Linked DNA regions of Homo sapiens: region 1 is linked to region 2. The links come from fine-mapping of genetic effects on gene expression. A gene starts in region 2. The other region holds a variant in brackets. All regions are shown on one strand. Distances are from middle to middle.

The links. PIP is the estimated chance that this variant, and not a neighbour inherited with it, causes the effect.
Region 1: its variant is fine-mapped to the expression of ARRDC3 in monocytes after R848 (Quach 2016, PIP 0.95).

The regions. Positions count from the first base shown.
Region 1 is chr5:91,305,774-91,317,193 of GRCh38, forward strand. LUCAT1 (lung cancer associated transcript 1) reads right to left here and starts at 8,629. Exons shown (of 5, transcript NR_103548.1): 1 at 8,307-8,629; 2 at 7,865-8,004; 3 at 7,305-7,456. RefSeq lists enhancers at 5,503-6,702, 6,065-6,609, 8,054-9,253, 8,141-8,928. The variant G/A (reference allele first, on the strand shown) is at 6,335.
Region 2 is chr5:91,378,127-91,389,546 of GRCh38, forward strand. ARRDC3 (arrestin domain containing 3) reads right to left here and starts at 5,191. Exons shown (of 8, transcript NM_020801.4): 1 at 4,687-5,191; 2 at 568-649. The coding sequence starts at 4,966. It overlaps ARRDC3-AS1 (ARRDC3 antisense RNA 1), which reads left to right and starts at 2,221. Exons shown (of 3, transcript NR_027435.1): 1 at 2,221-2,798. RefSeq lists silencers at 2,083-2,262, 2,883-2,952, 5,098-5,407 and enhancers at 5,261-5,778, 5,658-5,957.

The DNA of each region.
Region 1 (11,420 bases), 72 kb before region 2:
GAGAGTAAATTCTAATTAATTCAAATCAATTCAGATAACCCTAATCCTCTGTATGAGCCTTAGTTGATTACACAATAGTATTCCTTCCCACCTCCCAATAGCTACTGTTTAGTAGCTAAGCAACTGACTAAAGTTAAGCTAACTAAAGTTATAAGGAGGAGAAAGATTTTTTTTTTCACTTTTTTCATTGTTTGTAGAGGCATTCTCTCTCCTTTGCTCAACATAAATAAGGAGGTAGGGTCTGATGGCCCAACCTACAGAGAGGAGTTGATGTGAAGAGGAATCCAACACTGGATGTCAGGACAGAGGCAGAACCTGGGGGCCTGGAGACAAGGCAGAGATACAGGATTCATCAGCCAAACCTGAAGGTGCCTTCTCTCTAGACTCTCTGTTATGTGAGTCAAAAAATGCCCCATTGTTTTAGTCAATTGGAGTTTGTTTTTTTTTTTCTTCCTGTAACTTATAATCAAACACTCTGATAACCTATGACAAAGGATTAGTATACAATTAAATGAAGTAATGCATAAAGAGGTTGGGCATATAATAAAGACTTACCTCATGTGAGCTAAAACCACTATCAAGGCAGTTTCTAGGACCAAGAGCACAAGTGACCTTAAATGCCACTGAAAGCTCCCTTGGAGGTGTTCTCACCAGGAGGATTAGAGAAGCCAAAACAACCAGGTGAATATCTCTGTCAATGATAGACAACTTGGCTATAACAGGAAAAGATTCTAGAATTTATGGGATTATGGAACAATAAATAGAGTTAACTTTAGAAAGGAGATTTACAAAATAAGTAGCGGGTATGGATATTGCTAGTCCGTAGCTGATTAAGGCTCTGATTAAGTGAATTGCCCCAAGTCTCAGAGCAGACATAGGCCTAGTCCAAACTTAGAGCTCATATTACTTGCAGTGGATGTTTGTTCTCTTGGCTGTCCAGCAGGCCACCTTTTCCTTCAGGACACTGCTCTCCCACTGCATTTCACATGTGACTCGTTTGGGGCTGCCAAAATATATTTGGTTATCTTTTTTTTTTTTTTCAGTAAGCTAATACAAAATTACTGTTTCTTCAATAATTACTTTGCATTTATTGTCATCATTTCACTCCCAAATGTATCAAAATTAAAGTTTAAGAGGGAGGAAAAAAGGATAAGTAGAAGATCCTGATTACCTTTTAGTCATAGATAGTTTCATTATGTTATCTTTTAGGGTCTGGAATACACTGACCAGTGTATTAGACAAAATTTTATGAGAATTGGTTAAAGATATAGGGAAGAAATGTATTTGGAAAAAAACAAACCAAACCAAACCAAAACAAAACAAAAACCATTATTTTGAGAGTAAATACTTGGGGGGAAGAAGCTTGCAAGCCACCCGAATATGGCCTGGACTCTGGCGTGTGTGTGCGTGCTGGGGAGTATCTTGGTGTTGGACTCTGGCATGTGTGTGCGTGCTGGGGAGTGTCTTGATGGTGATGTTGTGTCATTGCTTCATTTTTGGCACTCAGTCACTACTCAAGAAAACCAGATTGAAAATTTGGAATCTGTGCTTCAGTGGATTGAAACTGGCCTCCAGTCACTAAGGAAAAAATCAAAACAAAACACACAAGAATTTAGAGAGAATATTTTTCTGCCAAAAAATAATTTTTCCTTTATGCTATTTCTTATTTGGGTCAATACTCCAATGGAAAAAATAGATAGATTGGTCAAGAGTTCAATATAATTTTCTGTGACATTTGAACTAAAGTAACTCATAAAAACTTAAACACAGGAAATTGTATCCTCTCCTGCTGATGTATGTGTGACTATTTGTCTCTCTTAAAAGAAAAAAGTAGAAGAAGAGAATTAATTGAATGGTATTTTGTTTTACTTGAGATGTTAAACTAATGTCAAACTAATTTATTTATTCAATAAATATTTATTAAGCACCTACTACATGCTGGTACTACAAGCCAGGTATAGATGCTTGGGATGTATTAATGAGCAAAACAAAACCAGTAGCAAACTTGTACACGCAGATAAGGGTTTCAAATATTGTTGGCATGGGCCAGGTGCAATGGATCACACCTGTAATCCTAGCACTTTGGGAGGCTCTTTAAATAGAGACCCCCATCTCTATTTAAAGAAAAAAGAAAAAAAATTATTGTTGGCACAGTCATAAAAATGGGAACAGTAGACACAGGGGAATACAAGATTGGGGAAGGGAGTGAAGTAAATGTTAAAAAAACTATCTGTTGGGTACTATACTCACTACCTGGATGACAGGTTGGATTCATGCATACTCCAAAACTCAGCATCATGCAATATACCCGGGTAACAAACCTGCACATGTATCCCCTGATTCTAAAATAAAAGTTCAAAAAATAAAAATAAAATAAAAATCATTGGGCTTCTGAGACTCATTTGTTAACTAATTTATTTTCTTGCTATTATTGCTATCATAATGCTTGGCTAAATAGCTGTTATAATTGCCTCAATTTTGAAAATATCAGGTTTGTTCGTTTGTTTGTTTTTGAGATGGAGTTTTGCTCTGTCACCCAGGCTGGGGTGCAATTGAGCAATCTCGGCTCACTGCAACCTCTTCCTCCCAGGTTTAAGCTATTCTCCTGCCTCAGCCTCCTGAGTAGCTGGGATTACAGGTACAAGCCACCAAGCCTGGCTAATTTTTTGTATTTTTAGTAGAGACGAGGTTTCACCATATTGGCCAGGCTGGTCTCGAACTCCTGACCTCCAGTGATCTGCCCGCCTCAGCCTCCCAAAGTGCTGTGATTACAGGCATGAGCCACTGCTCCCGGCCTCAAAATATCAATTAGAATCTAGCTTCCTGCCCTTTGTTGAGCCAAATGATATGATAGGTGAGGAGAACTGGGAAACTTAGAGGAGGTTACGTAGATCTTTACAAAAACAGAGGGGCTGACTCTGGGATAATATGGAGAATACTGGGGAAGAAAAGTATTATTCAAGTGAGGAAGAATCCACATAAAAGAAGAGATTGGGATTTCTTCTTTTTCTTACTTTCTTTCTTTTTTTTTTTTTTTTTTGAGACAGTCTCACCCAGGCTGGAGAGCAGTGGCGTGATCTCGGCTTGCTGCAACCTCTGCCCTGCCAGGTTCAAGCAATTCTCCTACCTCAGCCTCCTGAGTAGCTGGGATTACAGGCACACACCACCATGCCTGCCTAATTTTTGTATTTTTAGTAGAGATGGGGTTTCACTATGTTGGCCAGGCTGGTCTTGAACTCCTAACCTCAAGTGATCCTCCCACCTCGGCCTCCAAAAGTGCTGGGATTACAGGTGTGAGCCACCGCCCCTGGCCGACAATATCTTCTTGACAGAGGATTTCAACTGGAGGTCAGTTTAAGATTTTTACAATTGTCAAAAGAAGAGCAGGGTTTAAAAAGGCTGAGATACACTGAGCCATAGAATTATATCATTAAACATATGGCCATTGTCATACCTTGGAAAAATTGCTGGCTCTATCAGGTGCAACCTAAGTTATAGTAGTAGAAGTAGTAATGGTTTCAGTGTGTTGTCCAGGGTTTTTTTTTTGTAAAAAAAAGTAGTAATGGTAATAATAATGAAAGAAATAGTAGTAGTAATGACTTCCACTTACAAAAAGCTTACTGTTGGCCAAGCACCATTCTAGACAGTATTTCACTTTGAAAATGTCAATTATAATCTAGTTTCCTGTATCTTTATGAAATATTATTACTATTATTATTATTTTTAAGGCAGGGTCTCACTCTGTCATCCAGGCTGGAGTGTAGTGGGGCAATCATGGCTCACTACAGCCTCAACCTCTGAGGCTCAGGCAATCCTCTGGCCTCGCCTCCTGCATAGCTGGGATATAGGCAGGGTCTCCCTTTGTTGCCCAGGCTGGTCTCGAATTCCTGGACTCAAGCAATCCACCCACCCTGGCCTCTCAAAGAGTTGGGATTATATGCATAGGCCACCATAACTAGCCTAGTTTTCTGGGTTTTGTTAGTCAAATGATGATAGGTGAGGAGAACTGAAGAAATTTACAAGTTACATTGATCTTTATGAAAACAGGTGGGCCGACTCTGGGATAATTTAAGTCACAGCTCTTCTGTGGGGTGATTAGATTACTTGCACAACATTACAAAGATCTTCATCTATTCTTGGATGAATCTGTTGGGCATGGACCACTAGAGGAATAATAGATGCTCTATCATTAGGGATTCTAATCTACTCTGAGGAGAACAAAGAGCCTTTTACTCTCAGAATCAATTCTCAGGACCTCTACCTAGTTCAGAAGAGGCCTCCTCTGGTTAAGAGACCACATGCTGGCCAGGTGCGGTGTTCACGCTTGTAATCCTAACGCGTTACGAGGCCGAGGCAGGAGAATTGCTCGAGCCCAGGATTTCAAGACCAGTCTGGCCAACAGAGTGAGACAATATCTACAAAAAAAAATTTAAAAATTAGCTGGGTGTGGTGGTGCACCCCAGTGTACACACCTGCAGTCCCTACCTTGGGAGGTCGAGGCTGCAGTGAGCTGTGGTTAAACCACCGCTCTCCAGCCTGGGCAACAGAGCAAGACCCTGTCTCAAAAAAACCCCCAAACATATGTAAGCATATTCATCTACAAAAAATTGTTTTAAAGTTAAAAAATAAAAACAAAAATAAAATAAACAACAACAATGAAAAGAAAACAACCAAGAGACCCCATGTGTCCTGAGGTCCTGAGGTACTGGAGAGTCTCTAGACCCACCTAAGAGCAGAAACTTTTAGTCTATTTGAAACTCTAATTACAGAAGGAAACAAGTACCTTGGTGCTTTTGTCTTTGCTTGCAAATACAACAAAAAACTAATGGTAACTTTCTTTCTTTCTTTCTTTCTTTTTTTTTTTTTCTGAGACAGAGTCTCACTCTGTTGCCCAGCCTGGAGTGCAGTGACATGATCTCAACTCACTGCAGCCTCCGCCTCTCGGGTTCCAGCGATTCTCCTACCTCAGCCTCCCAGGTAGCTGGGATTACAGGCACGCACCACCATGCCCTGCTGATTTTTGTATTTTTAGTAGAGATAGGGTTTCACCATGTTGGCCAGGCTGGCTTACGAACTCCTGACCTCAGGTGATCAGCCCGCTTAGGCCTCCCAAAGTGCTAGGATTACAGGCGTGAGCCACCGCACTGGCCGTAATTTCTTTTCTCTTCCTTTCTCTGCTTCTTTCTTCTCTTCTTCTCTCCCTTCTTCCTTTCCTTCCGCCCTCCTTTCTTCCTTCTCTCCTTCTTTCTTTTCATGTATCTATTCAACAAACAAGTATTTAGAGCAGGAGTGTTCAATCTTTGGTTTCCTTGGGCCACATAGAAGAATTGTCTTGGGCCACACATAAAATACATGAACACTAACAATAGCTGATGGACTAAAACACATACACACAAATCTTATAATGTTTTAAGAAAGTTTACAAATTTGTGTTTGGCTGCATTCAAAGCCATCCTGGGCCACATGTGGCCCGTGGGCCTTGGGTTGGACAAGCTTGATTTAGAGCCTCCTTTATGCAACGCCAGGTGCTAGATGCTGGGGCTGCATGGTGAACAGAGGAAGGCCCCTGCCCCGGGAGACACAGCTTGATTCCCTTATGGTGTAGAACACATGAGCCATGAGGTCAGGAGCTGTGGGGTCTTGTTCACCACTGTACCCTCTACCCCTACCTAGCACAGCACATGGCAATAAGTACATGCTCAAAAATACTCTGAGTGAGTGAATACAAGTTGAGTGCTGCCACACTGATTAAAGGGTGCTCTTGAAGTCCCTCAGCTGGTAAATGCCACCCTGCAGACTGCCCAAGTTCCCCTCAGGAAAAACAGAACCAGTGTACATTCAGATCTTAAGAGTGGTCATCCGGAATACGTACCTTATGAAAAAGTAAGGATATTCAGGTTCAGTAATGATATACTTGGTTTGCAAATAACACACGTTCGTTTTCATGTTGCTAAAGACTCCTTGCTAGGAAACGAAACACTTGTAATTTAATATGCAATGTTCTCAAGAGTCTGAGGCCAAACCACCTCAAGCTGTGAATGCCTTGGCTCTGAAGAGCCAGTCAGGGTCAGGGCAGGGCAGCACTTGGCCTGATGCTCCTCCAGAATAAACCAAACAGCCACAGGAAGTGGTTTCTGTGATTCAGTAGGTGGCACACTTCCTTTTGAGTCAGAACTGAATCACAGCTGTGAGAGGCGAAAAATACCTATTTCTTTATCCCATACTTTTTCCCTATTCCCAGTGGTAAATTTATCACAGACTGTCATATAATGTATCCTGTTTAGTTCCGCGTATTTAAGCAAACAAAAAAAATTTGGCAAATCAACTACGGGGA[G/A]GCAAGAAAGGAGGGGAAAACACAGCCGACTGGAATTAATCCAAACGTCATTATGTCGTCACAGGGCCATATTCTCAGAGGTGATTGAAAGAATTGCCACAGTGATTTTGCTGGGGTCATTCAGGCCCCTGGTTCTCTCAACTGGAGTCTGACCCATTTCCAGTGAAAGCAGTTAGATCACACTTACATAAACTGTGTTGCTTCAAATGGGCCTGCCCTCCTCTTCACTCACTGACCCTGGCTTGCTTCTTGGCATGTCTGCTGGAAGGCCATTCTCTGTCTGTCCCAGGCATGGCCCTAGTTCAGCTGCGGGTGAAATTATCCTGTTCTGAATGTACTGAATGCTGCTGGCAATGCTGTAAATTGTTGTGAGGCTTAAGGAAAAACCCTGTAGATATCAACAAGTCATAAAAACAGGCGTATTTTCTCTTCGTCTCTTTCCCACTGTGTGTTTTATTCTTCAATATTAACAGTTCTGGGAATGTAAATGTATTTAACTATATTTTCCTCTGATGAACTAGATTTTAGTATATAATTTGTGGCTTCCTTCCATACCAATTTGTTCATATTGATAGCATGCTTCAGAACAAAGCTTCAGAGCTCAGGCTATACATCCTATAACACTCTTGGAAGACCAGTAACCAGACTGGAACCAGAAATCTTATTGCCATGTTAATATGTCATTTTCCTTCTGTGAAATATTCCAATAATGTAAAGAATGCAAGATTCAAAGTCACATAGACCCATGTACACGTTCAATCTACACCAAAGTTTGTGGAGCTGTGTGACCTTCAATAAGTCTCTTAACCTCTCTGAGCCATAATTTCCTCAGTCTGAAAAATGGGATGCTAACATAAGGCCAACATTACAGTGAGAACTAAATAAAACTTTTACATAGTGTCTAGGACAGCTCCTAGCTCATATTTAGTGTTTAAAATAAGCCTCTGATCTTTCTCTTTATTTACAATACCTTTTCATTGGGAGATGAGGACAGCATTTGGACACAACTGTACAGGCACGCTAAGTCTCATCCTTCCAAAGACGTCAGTCACATTCAGCCCCTTTAGCAGTTTCATCAACAGCATGTATAGCACATGTGATAGCAAACAGCAAGTTGGATTCCTTAATAAAGCAGTAAAGAAGGTCAGCCAGGATGTAGGCTTTAAAGCCAAGGCCAGCTCTTCTGGGCAGGACAGTTGTGGCTGATGTATGACAGCCAAATGTAATGAGAGTCCTCATTTGACATATTGAAGCGAGCACCTCAAGGATGGGCAGGGAAAAGAACCATCAGCAGTACTCACCACCAGAGCAGCAGTGAGTGCCCAGGTCAAACTGGACAAGGGCTGGCAGACAGGTGGAAATGTGAGTACATCGTTAGATTTGAAAAGGCCTTTGGCAGGGCACAGTGGCTCACGCCTGTAATCCCAGCATTTTGGAAGGCCAAGGCGGGTGAATCATGAGGTCAGGAGAACGAGACCATCCTGGCTAACACGGTGAAACCCCGTCTCTACTAAAAATGCAAAAAATTACCTGGGTGTGGTGGCGGGCGCCTGTAGTCCCAGCTACTCAGGAGGCTGAGGCAGGAGAATGGCGTGAACCCGGGAGGTGGAGCTTGCAGTGAACCGAGATCGCGCGCCACTGCACTCCAGCCTGGGCGACAGAGCGAAACTCTGTCTCAAAAAAAAAAAAAGAAAAGAAAAGCCCTTTTAAAATGTCCATCCTCCCATAACCCTTTGAAGCCTCCCACGTCCCCCCAGTTCCTCCCAAATGGCATATAAAAAGGGTGATGGCTTTTAGACAAAGGCAGTAGTACTCCCCAAACAGTTAAGGTCCAGAACATCATCTTGTATATACCTGTCTTAGAGCTATCACGTTGTGTACTGGAGTTTCCTGATTACATGACAGACTCCTCTGCTAGACAAACTCCTGAAGACAAGGAGGGGTTCTTATTCATCCTTTAGCCAAACCTTACCTGTAGCTCAGCATGTAGCCCATGGTAGATGCTGAACCAATTTTGTTAACGTGAGAGAAATACAAGAAAGCCAAGTCAGAAATACCATTGTTGCTGTTAGAAAACTTCAAAGAGGAATTTGTGGTCTCTGGTGCCAAGGTCCCATAAGAGTTCCAGCTGGGTGAGCTTCTTGTGAGGAAAGGAGCCAGAAGTCAGAACACATAGTGTGACAATATGAGAGAAAAGAGGATGAAAGCTGTTCTTAAATTGCACCTGTCTAAGGCAATCCGAGCTTGACACATGGTTTCTGGAGGTCTGGGCATTGTCTGAGTGGAGTGTTGATTGTATGTCTCCTGGAGCCTTCTGTTTAAATAACTGCCAGAGCAGGATGACTCAGCAGCCGGAGGATGAGATGCTCTTGATCTGCCGTCCTCTTTAAGTGACAAATCACATTGCCCTGGGTGTCTGTGGCAATCTCTGATATGACACACTCCTTCCTGCCAGCCCATCAACCAGGGTGGCAAGTCACAGTTACTAATCTGGAGACGGCTGAAAATTGCTGACAGGCAAGATCCCATGCTCCAAGTGTAGAGAATCATCTTTAAAATGAACTCTTGTCAATCTTGTCAATAGATTTTCTTTTTTTTTTTTCTTTTTTGAGATGGAGTCTCACTCTGTAGCCAGGCTGGAGTACAGTGGTGTGATCTTGGCTCACCGCAACCTCCACCTCCCGGGTTCAAGTGATGCTCCTGCCTCAGCCTCCCCTGGTAGCTGGGACTACAGGCGCATGCCACCACACCCAGCTAATTTTTGCATTTTTAGTAGAGACGGGGTTTCACCATGTTGCCCAGGCTGCTCCGGAACTCCTGACCTTAGGTGATCCGCCCACCTCAGCCTCCCAAAGTGCTGGGATTACAGGCGTGAGCTACCACGCCCAGCCTAGATTTTGTTACTGAGACTGAGTCTCACTCTGTTGCCCAGGCTGGAGTGCAATGGTGTGATCTTGGCTCAGTGCAACCTCTGCCTCCTGGGTTCAAGCAATTCTCTTGCTTCAGCTTCCTGAGTACCGGGGATTACAGACGCCTGCCACCACACCTGGCTATTTGTATTTTTAGTAGAAACGAAGTTTCGCCATGTTGGCCAGGCTGATCTCAAACTGCTGACCTCAAGTGATCCGCTCGCCTCGGCCTTCCAAAGTGCTGGGATTCTAGGCATGAGCCACGGCACTCAGCCTTGTTTCTGAAATGTAGAGACTGATTTTACATTTCTAGTCTGTCTCCATATCAAAGACTCCCTATTGTCTTCAGGATAAAGTCGAAATTCAATATCCTGACCATTAGGGTCCTATAGGAACTTATCTATACCTACCTTCCTAGCATAATAGAATCTTAACTTGTTTTGCTTTTTTTTCTACTTGATATCGGCTTACTTCTGTTTGTTTCTTTGTTTTTGTCCCTGGCAGATAAATGGTGACAGGACAAAGCTTTAAGAACGTGGCCTAGAGGCCAGGTGTGGTGGCTCACTCCTATAATCCCGGTACTTTGGGAGGCCGGAGCATGCAGATCACTTGAGATCAGGAGTTGGAGACCAGTCTGACCTAACATGGTGAAACCCTGTCTCTACAAAAAATCCAAAAAATCCAGATGTGTTGGTGCACTCCTATAATCCCAGCTACTCGGAGGCTGAGGCAGTAGAATCGCTTGAACCTGGGAGATGGAGGTTGCAGAGAGCCCAGATCACCCCACTGCACTCTAGCCTGGGTGATGGAGCGAGACTCCTTCTGAAAGGAGAAGAAGGGGAAGGGGAAGAGGAAAAAGGGGAAGGAGAAGAAGGGGAAAGGGAAGGGGGAAAAAAAGAAAAGAGAAAAGTGGCCTAGGAGGAAATCCTACCTAGTAGCTATTTCCTGAAAATTGCAGAAGTTACCATTATTAAAATTTAGTAGGCTGGGTATGGTGGCTCACACCTATAATCCTAGCACTTTGGGAGGCCGAGGTGGGAGGATCTCTTGAGCTCAGGAGTTTAAGACCAGCTCAGGCAAGAGTGACACCCCTGTCCTTACAAAAATATCAAAAAATTAGCTGGATATGGTGGCATGCACCTGTGTTCCCAGCTACATGGGAGGCTGAGGCTGGAAGATGACCTAAGCCCAGGAGATGGAGGCTGTGGTGAGCCATGATCATACCACTGCACTCCAGCCTGGGTGACAGAAAGAGACCCTGTCTCAATATAAGTAAATAAATAAATAAATATAAAATTTAGTAGCACAGTACTTTCATGTTGGTCATTAAAGAGCAGTATTCTCTAGATTTTTTTGTTTGACAAATGTTGGTCAACTTTCAAGTAGGGATTCAAGGATAGCTTAGATACGAGACTCAAAAACTATACCTATAGGAACAGAAAACTTAAATTTGTGATTTGGACTAGCTGCTCTGTGCTATGCCCGAAATAAGCTAAATAGGTTTCTAACTTTTTTGTTTGTTTGAGATGGAGTCTCGCTCTGTCACTCAGGCTGGAGTGCAGTGGCATGGTCTCGGCTCACTGCCTCCCAGGTTGAAGCGATTCTCCTGCCTCAGCCTCCTGAGTGGCTGGGATTACAGGTGCACACTGCCACACCTGGCTAATTTTTTATTCTTTTTGGTAGCGATGGGGTTTTACCATGTTGGCCAGGCTGGTCTCGAACTCCTGACCTCAAGTGATCCACTCGCCCAAAGTGCTGGGATTACAGGTATAAGCCACCACACCCAGCTGGTTTCTAACACACTTTTAAGCATTATAAATGCTTTAACTTGTCTGCAAGGGCTGATTCAAATTTCGGATTATGTTTTTGCAACCCCTGGTTCAGATCAAAGGAATGACAATCCACACTATCCATAACCCCACTATTCACCTCTACACCATCCTTCCTACTCACTGCAAACCGTTTTCTAACAGGAATTTCCTTGGCTACATAAGTATTGTCTCTGGCGAACAAGGACTTTGGGTCACACATTTTGTGTTTCCTCAGAGTTTAGTCCAGTGGGTCCTGTCCACACTGTGGTGCTTAACACTATTGACTTGATTTGACTTTGAAAGAGGAGCTCTCCACTTACCTCCAACCTTTGCAGATTCCACTCAAGGATAATTGTGAATTGTGGT
Region 2 (11,420 bases):
GATGCATGTTTCCTTTTAAGCCTGGGTCATATCTCTTGTGTGACCTTCCCAATAGTTCTTTGTACAGAAGCTATTAAGTTCATATCAGAAGAAAAACATTTCTAAAGTTAGGATATTCCTAATTATTTTTATTTTCGAAACTTACTGCTATTGGTTAGTATTAGCAGAAAAAGTAGAATATAGAATTTTTTATAAATTGAAGCTACTAAGACTTGATAGGGTCTATCTTTTCTCATAATGATAATTGATAATAAACTAAGTATAAAGTGGTTATTATTCGACTAGCAACTTCCAATTCACTCATGTTAAAGGAAACCCTATTCCTATTTTAAAAACCTCATAAACTTTAGGAAAGAATACTGAAAATTGAGTATGCTTTCTATAATTTTGCCACGCTAGATTAAAAAATAGCTTCTTATGTTTAATATATTGTTTTCCTCTAGCAAGTTTCAGTAATGAAAAGGGTTTTTTTTTCAACTAAAAATGTTTAAATTTAGAATACTTAATTTTAAAATAATGCTCTGATCATAAGTATCTATAAAAATGCCTATTATTTATAATACTTACGTCTGTGGAAGCTCGAAGCTGAATGCATATTCATGCCTTCCTGAATGAATAGTGTGGAAGCCTTCTTCGGAATTATCATCATCTAAAACAAACATAAAAAGAAAACAAAGAATTTATTATTCAACATTTACATACTCCGCAGGGTGGCATAACTTTAAAGATGCTTACATAACAATTAAGACCACAAAACAAGCTTTGGAGTCTGAGAGATCTGAGTTCTAATTCTAACTTCATCATTTCCTCTGGACAAAATAAAAATCCTGTCGTCAGCTGCCTTATCTGTAAAATGGGGATAATGAATACTCACACCCCACAGGCTTTTTATTTTTTCTAATGGAAAATGACCCAAACTGCAAAGCATCTGTTTATAAAATAGTATATATACTCAAAAGGCTCGGGTCTCACATCATGGTAAGACAATGCTATCCTTTGTCTCCAACGGTTTGCTTAAATTTATCACATTAAGACTATAATGTATCAAAGAAAAACTGTTCATGCAACCCTCTTAAAATATGTCAGTTTATAGGGAATAATAATACCAGATGTGAATAGAATAGATACTCCAAAACCACTAGAAAACCTTGTCAAATAGACGGAGTAAAAAAAAAAAAAAAAAAAGCCACACATTGATTTTAATGTCAGATTTATAACTAAAAATAATTATTTATTGAACTAAAAATAATTATTTATTGATCTAAAATGATCACAACACTCAGTTGGTCCTAGCAACGACTAAAACTTGCATAAACTATACCTTAGATAATTACAAAGAACCGCATTTAGGTGGTGTCGGCTTATAAGGAAACAATATTTTCCAACATCCTTGAAAAAAATGAAGTCTAACTATTAATAGTTTCCAGTTTCTATAAAAAAGGGATGACCTTTCATTTTACAACCAATTTTTTTGGTGAAATTATTTTTTTTCAAGTGGCATGAAAATAAATATAATCGAAAATATGGGAGGGGGTTCTAGATCATTAAAGTGCCTATTTAGCGTTTTAAATAATTACAGAAATATCTTTTAAAGTTTTCTTGGTGTAGAAACCTTTACGATTAGCCCCCAGAGTAGAAAAAACTGGCACATTATTTAACTTTCCTTCAGCAAAGTATTGGATATACACAAAAAACGTGATGCCTCCCTGATATTAAACGAGAAAAAGGGGGAAAAAAGCATGTATACGTCGATACTTTCATTTAAAAATCATGGTGATTCGCTTATGTCTCCATACAATTTTCCTCGTCCCCTGTGCAAATTCCCCTGAACGGATTTCAGAACCAAAAACTAGCTGATGAGCTGGGGGCCATTTAAATTCGCTCCCCTCGAAGGCGCCCGAAGTTCGCCTTCCTTTCCCTTTCTTCCCTCTTCGCTCCCTTTTTGTGCCAGCTCAGCAGTCTCATTGAAGCGAGCGGCGGCGGCCGCGCCGTGGTAAACAAGTGCCGGGCTGTCAATCAAGAACTAGACCGGAGCAGGAGAGGACCGGCCTAAACCGGCGCGAGCAGATCCCAGCCGGCCTGCCCGCGCGCCGCCGCCGCCGCCGCTGCCGCCCGCGCGCCCCGCTATACATACGGCATACGTCGCGCGGCGCTCGCGCCCGTGCCCGCGCAACCTAGCCTGCTGGCCGGGGGGCGGGGCGAGCGAGCCGCGGCGCTTCCGCTTTACACGCCCCAGCCGGCGACCGGTTCCATCTGGCTCGGGCCACTCTGACACCTTTAGTTTCGGCAAGGGATATTGGGGTGGCGAAGGGGAGGCGGGGGCCCGAAGGCTTCGGAAAACGATGGGGGAGGGGGCAGAGGATACCCGTCGAAGCCCCCCCCTCCCCCAACATTTCGATATTGGAATCACTTTCCTTCTTCCTCGGGCCAGCCTTTGCTCTGTCCCCTCAGGTCAACTCAAGGTAGACAGTGTGGCGACTGGAGAGGTCGGGGAACAAGCTTTGTTTCAGCTAAGGGGAAAACAAGCGTTCACAGGAGTCCCCTGACACCTCCCACTCGGAAGATAGCTAACGGGGGTCCTGCCAACCCTTCCCATCCAACTTCCATCTGAAAAGGATTTTCTGCTAAAGTTGGGTCCATGGCCATCCAGCACCTGTAAGGCCGGCAGGAGCGTCTGCCCTCTACTCAGTTAAAGCCTGAAGTCGTTTCCTTTCGATGGCCCTTAGGAGGCCCAAAAGAGGGGCGACAGAACATGATGTTGACACGGGCTGGGCGCCCCCAGAAGCCCGGGAACAAACGTGAGTACGGGCTGGGTGGGGGTCGCTCTGGAGGAACCTTTACCGGCGCACGCCGGTTTCCTAGCCTCGCCCCAGCCGCGGCGCGAGCTCACTCTCCCCACCCGCCCGCGCCCAATCCAATCAGCGCCTGCCATCGCCTTAGCAACAGGCTAACAAACCTGGCTCCGCCTATCCCGGGCGCCCGGGGCGGGGTCTCAGTTACCAGGCTAGTTTGAGAGCTCCCAGTTTCAAGTCATTGAAACTATTCCAGACTGAGCTCGTCTACGCGTTGCAGGGTTTGGGGGGCATTTTGTTGGGGGTGCAGGGCATTTAGTTTTCTTTACCACGAAATCATGGTGCAACTAATGAAATTATATTTGTCCTCACATCTCGTTGTTCTACTTTTCCCCACTGCAAGTCTTAACCCCTTGAGGAAAAATCTGTTTTCTTTCATCCGTTTCATAAAAGGCTGCAATATTCAGAAAGGTACAAACACAAAGTCATCTATCTGCTTTTCAACAAATACCAAGGCTGTCATTAGGCATTTGCATCTCCTATCAGTGTTAACACTTGGAGAGATTAATTAGTTATTTCAGGATGCAAAGTACCTGTATCTAACTACGAAAATCCTGCTAAAGAACTGAGTTCACCTTAATAGTTTCAAAAATAATGCATTAATACTGTCCCTCAAAGCATCCTTCATTTCTCACTTGCCTTAGTCATCAGCACTTCTCCAGGATGTACGTTTTTAATATAAAAAATAAGGTAAAATATGTCTCTAATTTTTTTTCTGAAAAATCGCCAACATCTGAACTAAATACTGCATTAAAAAGGAGAGGCACAAAAATTACATAACCAGTTTTAACATTATATTCTTCTTGGGCTAGGAATTAAGTCATCGCCACCACCTGACGCGTGTAACCAATCTGCTGAGAGCAGAACAAGCGCCCCTCCTCACCACCCCCCAGAACTGGTCCGAAACAGGATTGAACCGCTTCTAACAAAGGGTGGAAACTTAGAAAAACAAGCCTAGAGTCTCCTATATTTCCACAATGTAACCATTTAAACAATAGATTGGAAATCTCAGGACTCCTTCTCCTTTTGACAACCCTTTATCTCTCTCTTCTAACCAAAAATCAAATCCAGTGTGCCCTATACTTTTCAATTCCATTTGACTGGCATGGGTTTCATTGAATGCACGTTCCAAAGTTAGACATGATGCTCGGAAAAGAAAATTACTGATCCTAAATGGCTTCTAAACCTGACTCGATACCTATCATAATGACAGATAGTCATTCCTTTAAAATAAGGAATGCTGGGTGTAAATTTTTAAAGGAATGGTAAAGAATAGAGAAAAAACACGTGGGGTGTTGATACCATATGTCAAAATAAGCCACAGAAATCTTTTATGAAAGAACAGTCATCAATTATTTAAAGTCTTTTGCATTCCAATATTAAAAATGAAACACACCCATTAAGTCTCTTAAAAATGTTATTACATTTCTTGATCGAAGTTCAGTTTTTACATCTTAGGTTGCAAGTAAAAGGGCAAAAATCTAAGACTGCAGCTTTTACCAATTCATTTGAAAATATATTAGTAAAACGACTGAATTGGATTCAAACAGAATTTATAAGTAAGGTGCAAATGGACTACAAGTGCGTGTGGCACAGACCGAGCCGGGTACAGAGGTAGCTGAATAAGTGTAGTTTGCAGTCACTTTGCAGATGCCTGCATGCATTACGGCTTAACACACGATGAACGTCAAGGAGAATCCAAACCTTCCAACTTTGCTAACCTTTCTCAAACTGCTTAGTTATGCTAGGAGTAGAATCACGTTAATTCAGAAAACTGAAAAGGTACGTTTCCAAAGAAAATGAGTCCAATGACTTATGAATAACAAAAACTTACCTCTTTCGTGCCCAATTAAGATGTCTTTATGGTTGAAATACTCTACTTCTTCAGTGTAATTCTGTGTATAGGCAGTATTGGAGCCGGCGTTTCTAGATTCAGTCCAGCGTACTTTCGCATGTCCTCTTGCATGAATTTTAAGAGATTTTACTCTGATTTCCCCAGTAACTTCTAAATTTACCCTTCCTGAGACGGTATCCCCACTAGAATACACAGGGACATTGCTGTCATTAAGACAGTCAAAGCTTATTGTCAAACTCTTCACCTTTCCCAGCACCATGTTTATAACAAAATCTATAAAAATATAATGTAAGACAAAAAAGTCAAGATCGCATATAAAATGTGATCTTCACTTAACACTGATCGATATTTTTGCCGTGCAAAATGCTTGCAGGCCGGATCAGTGATTCTCTACAAATAGTTCATTGAGATTTCTTAAAAAGTCAGGGCAGCAGAGGCTGCTGCTCCGCGCTCCCGCTCGTCTCAGTGGTCTCCTTACAAAGACGGGCGGCTAAAAGCTGCCAGCTCACTTTAAGAGCAGCTTTGTGAAAAACAACCCCAGTGCGCAGGCGCAGGCCGCGGCTGCTGTCCGCCCTCCCTGCGCGCCCCCTCCCGCGCCGCGCCGCGCCGCGCTCGCTCCCTTGCCCGCTCGCTCCCGGGTACAGTAGGTGTAGAGCTAGGGGAAGGAGATACTGGAGCTGCTGGCCGGCTGAACCTGACTTCTCTTCATTGTGGGCTCCTATTGGTAGGCAGGCTACCGTATACCCTCGACGTGCTATCTGGAGCCCGTTACCGAGCGCACTCTACTAGAAAGATAATGGCAGAGTGGGGTGCGAGGGTACAAGGGCTGGGTGGGGAGTTTGCAAAGCCAAGTTAGGATAAACTGCAGCGACCAGCCCGAAGCGTGCGTTACCGGCACTGCAGCGTTTTACCAACTGCCTGGATGGGAGGAGGAAAAAGTGATGTGTGAAGAGAGATGGGGGAAGGGAGAAACCGGTTGGGCAAGCGGCCGATTGTTGAGCATAATCTAACGAATTTCCAAAGAAAACGTAATAAAACCGGACAAGAAATATTGTTCATAGACAAGAGCATACTTTGCTTGGATTTTTTTTTTTTAAACCAGTACTTTGTAGGCAGGTTGGAAATGAACTCAGTCGAGGTCAAAGGAACCTTAATCCTTTGAAGAGCGAGGTAGAGAAGCAAGTACAATGTAATCAATAGGCTTTGCTGTCTCCTCAACTTCTTTCTCCTACATTGCTTAATTAGCACCGAAAAACAACCAAGTTGTTTCCAGGATGACACGGGTGGGGGCTGGGGGAAGCTTGATCACTTCCTCGAAGGAAGAAAAAGTCCTTTTAAGACACCACCTACGGCTAGATTTGCAGAGTAAGACATGATTACAACTCCTGTGTCCAGAGGAATAAGAATAGAGTTCGGCCTAAAAAAGTACTACCTTATAAAAGGCATATGACATAGTGGTTTAGCTGACATATTGTTTGCAACAGAATCGGAAAATCTTTGTTAGAAATTAGTGAAGCGCATAAAATTGTTTTTAAAAAGCATGATTTGGTATATAAATAGGGATTTAACTGTGTGAAGCTTTAATTTTCGGCCGAGAGCCTTGGACCATTTAACGTAGTAATTCTCATGATACATCTTAAATATAGGTACATTTCTCTTTTTATTGTGAATGTTTGGTAAAAAATAGCAGTGCTTTCGTCACATCACACTGGGATTCAGAGCATAACAGCATAAACTCATCTAGATTACTGGCAATCAACAGAACTGCCTTACAAGAGAAATGTAGAAAGAAAAAATATGAATCTGGTGCTCTCTCTATATATATATGTATGACCAAAAATACCTTGGAAGATTTTTGGCTGTCCGTGTCTAAACGTTTTAGATTCTTTTGCGTAGTGTATATGGATAGGTTGAGCCTATGAGTCACAATAAACTAAACTTATTGGTCTTGCTGTTTTATTTCAAAAGAAACTAAGCTTTTGGGGGTTGGATTTTAGTTGACAAGGCAATATCTTGGACTCAACAGCAATATATAAAGAGTATAAATATGCAAACTAGACAATTAATGAGCAGGCCATTTATTTCAGAGTTTAGATCGCTATGCATAAAATTATAAATTTGCATATTTAAGTGGGAAAAACAGTCTTATCTTTTCCCTACCTCTTGGTTGACACCTGGTGGAAATTCTAGGTAAAGTACCTGGGGCCTTGTACTAGCTTTGATTACAGATACTACTTGTGTTTTTTCTCCACCTAGTGGTAGAAGTGGTGAATTTCCTAGAATGACAGCTTTTCCTCAGCATAAGGTCAATGATATTTAATAAGCATTCGAAAACCACTGAGCAAGGAATGGATTTAAAAGTGTAGTCCATAATGAATACATAAATTCATTGCACATTTGTGTCTACATTTATGTTAAAAATTATTAAGGGTTAGTGAACAGCTGAATTCGGATTTTTTTAGTAAAATTTATTTAATTAGAATATAACTCATTTCAGAAAAAATAAGAATTAGCTATATAAATACACCAGAATTGCATTTAATAAAAAAGAAGTCTAAGAAATTTATTTGTAGTTTGGAAAATTGTTTTAAAATATTAAATGTTTCATTCCTGTCACTGTGTAGTACATTATTCTTTGTGTTTGAAGCTTTCAGGATCTTTTGAATAGTTGTCTTTATTATTTATTTTGCTATTTTTAAAATTTTCTTTTTACTGTGTCTTCTTAAATACTTAGGTAACTGGCAAATTTCCAAGAAATTCTTACCAGCTGCCATTTTCATTATATTTTTATTTTTTGAGATGGAGTCTCACTCTGTTGCCCAGGCTGGAGTGCAGTGGCACAATCTAGGCTCTCTGCGGCCTCTGCCTCCCGGGTTCAGGCGATTCTCCTGCCTTAGCCTCCGGAGCAGCTGGGATTACAGGCACGCACCACCACCTCTGGCTACTTTTTGTATTTTTAGTAGAGACAGGGTTTCACCATGTTGGCCAGGCTGGTCTTGAACTCCTAGCCTCAAGAGATCCACCCGCCTTGGCCTCCCAAAGTGCTGGGACTATAGACATGAGCCGCTTGCGCCTGGTCTCGCTTTATCTTTTCAATTCTTAAAAACAAAAACAAAAACAAAAACGCTTGGACCAAATTTTGAATGTTTTCTCTTGTCGCTTTCATAACTTCCCCCTTTCAGATTTTTTGTCTAAATAGCTACTCCTTAGACAGCTTGAAATGCTGTACTGTAGACATTATCTTGGGCTTCTCAGCTTGCTTCACTGGGCCATTATTGTATTTTGTATTATATTTAAACTATTCGTCTTTACCATCAAGGCTCTTTCCTACTTCTCCCCAGCCTACGTCTCATATGCCATCTCCTCCTACTCATCTGCTAACTCTCTATAATCCTGTCAAGTACATCTTCTGTCCCCTTTGTTAGCTTGTCTCACTGTTGCCAGTATGCAGTTACATGTGCTTTTGGTGCCCAGAATAACATCCCACTACTATGTTATCTCCTTTGCTTTTTTCTAATCCCTCCACTAGATGCAGTTGGCACTACTGAGTAAAATTCCAACTAGACTGAATAACTAGCTTCCCTTCCCCTTTCATTGCTTCTTCAGAGCTTAAGTAGGAATCTCTTTTTATATTAGCTTTTGAGTCAAATGGCTCTTTCACCTTAATATATTAAAGTTTGAACTCAATCTCAAGAACTCTATCAAAGACTGATAAATGATCATTGCTGTCAAGTTGTATGATATTGAGGAGATATGTTAAGATTACTGCCAAGTTTGGAGTTTTTTGCATATTATATCAACATGCTCAATATTTTTATTTTTAAAAAAAAAGGAAGCCATCTCAACTGGAAGTTTTGGTGTTTGGTTGAAAAAAAAAAAAACCTACCAGTAGTCAGAATCTGTTTCATAAAGAAAAATATGAAATCTATGCTTAATCTATTTTAACTAGCAGCTGATAGGCTCGAGTGCTATGGGACTAAGGGGGATTTTTTTCCTTTGGTCTTAATTCTGTATTTCAAGATTTTGTAACTCTGACTTAACTCTTTAATATCGTCACAGTGCAGCAAATTTGGCATGCAGACTGGACAGAAGACTTGCTGTATTATTAGCAAAATGAGTAGTATTTGTTTTTTAGCTTTGAGAGCTATTACAAACATAACGCATATTATGTTTGTTATGTTCTTCATACTTAATAGACTTTTAAATATGTTATGGATTTTGTGATGAAACTCACTATCAAATTTGGATTCTGATATCCTTCATTAATAAATAGTATAATTTGTGTTATGTGAACACCATTTAATCTGTTATATTTTATTTCTTGATTAAAAGAAAATCACCCATAATTCTACTGTCCGTCCATTCAGAGACACCACTGTTAACATTTTGGTGTATTTCCATCCAGATGTACAACTAAAGAAGAGCATTGCCAGTGAAGCTATGGCAGTGCATATTATCATGTAGAAGATGAGTTGGTAAAGTTTATTCATCTAAGCTCAAATGGCATCTGGTCTACAGAAAGAATTAGGAATGCTAAATTTCTTTTCTGAACTACTTTATAAATTTTGACTTTTGACTATGCACAACTTTATATAATGAGGGTAAAATTTTATTTGCTGTAATAAAATATTTTCTGGCTGAGTGTGGTAGCTCATGCCTGTAATCCCAGAACTTGAGAGGCTAAGGTGGGAGGATTGCTTGAGTCCAGTGGTTTGAGACCAGTCTGGGCAACATAGCAAGACCCTGTCTCTACAAAAAATACAAAAATTAGCCAGGTGTGGTGGCATGTGCCTCTAGTCCCAGCTATTCAGGAAGCTGAGGTAGAAGGATCACTTGAGCCTGGAAGGTTGAGTCTGCAGTTAGCTGAGCTCGTGCCATTGCACTCCAGTCTAGGTGACAGAGTGCGACCCTGTCTCAAAAAAATTTTTTTTAAATTTTTTTTCAAACATTTGATTATTTTATTTTGAGACAGCTCTGTTGCGCAGCTGGAGTGCAGTGGCGCAATCTCAGCTCACTGCAACCTCTGCCTCCTGGATTCAAGCCGGGATTACAGGCCGTCATCACCATACTCTGCTGATTTTTGTATTTTTAGTAGAGGCAGGGTTTCACCACGTTGGCCAGGCTGGTCTTGAACTCCTGGCCTCAAGTGATCTGCCTGCCTTGGCCTCAAAAGATGCTGGGATTACAGGTGTGGGCCACCGTTCCTGGCCAACATTTTGATAATTTTATATAGGATATGTAGCTTATATAGCATAGCATATCTACTTTGAAATATTTTACTCTCCCAGGGATGAAAGGGCTGAAGAGGCCCATTAAAGTCATTAAGTCAACTCCCTGCCTTTAAGCAACCTGAGAACCCATTCTATTTTTGTTTTTATTTTCTTATTTATTTAAATTTTAACTTTCATTTTAGATTCAGAGGTACATGTGCAGGATTGTTACATGTGTATACTGCGTGATGCCGTGGTTTGGGGTATGATTGATCTCATAACCTGGGTAGTGAGCACAATACCCAATGGGTAGTTTTTCAACCCTTCCTACTCCTGCTCCAGTAGTCCCTAGTGTCTGTTGTTCCTATGTTTATGTCCATATGTATCTGGTGTTTAGCTCCCACTTGTAAGTGAGAATATGCAGTATTTGGCTTTATGTTTCTGTGTTAATACACTTAAGATAATGGATTCCAGCTGCACCCATGTTGCCGCAGAGGACATGATTTCCTTCTTTTTTATGGCTGCATAGTATTCCGTGGTATATATGTACCACATTTTCTTTATCCAGTCCACCATTGGTGGGCATCTAGGTTGATTCCGTATCTTTGCTATTGTGAGTACTGCTGTAAGGAATATACAAGTGCATGGGTCTTTCAGTAAAACAATTTCTTTTCCTTTGGGTATGTACCCAGTAATGGGATTGCCAGGTCGAATCGTAGTTCAATTTTTAGTTAATTGAGAAATCTCCAAACTGCTTTCCACAGTGGCCGAACTAATTTACATTCCTACCAACAGTATATAAGCATTCCCTTTTTTCCACAGCCTGCCAACATCTGTTATTTTCTTACCTTTTTTTTTTTTTTTTTCGAGACAGAGTCGGGTTCTGTCACCCAGGCTGGAGTGCAGTGGCGTGATCTTGGTTCACTCTGACCTCCACCTCCTGTGTTCAAGCAATTCTCCTGCCTCAGCCTCCCGAGTAGCTGGGACTACAGGCCACCACACCTGGCTAATTTTTGTATTTTTAGTACAGACAGGGTTTCACCATGTTGGTCAGGCTGGTATCAAACTCCGGACCTCAGGTGATCTGCCCACCTTGGCCTCCCAAAGTGCTGAGATTACAGGTGTGAGCCACCACACCCGACCTTTTTTGTCTTTTATAATAAAATATTTTCTTGATGGATATTGAGTTTTGTGGTAAAGTACAACAGAAAAGAACCAGTTCCCAGTTTTTAAATATCAAACTTATATATAGCTAGCTGGAATTTCATATTCAATACCTTACCTGGAGATAATTGCCCTTCTAGGTATCCACATTTCTGTGTTGATGAAGGGGATCACTATTATAAATGATTTTTTAAACCCTAAAACTTGTCATTTACTGCCACTAACTTCTCAGTACTGTTTAATGGAATATTTTTCCAACAGTTCACCACCTAAAGTTAGTTTTATGTACTATTAATTATTATCTTTATGTTATCATAATTTAGAAATTGTAAGGGAGAA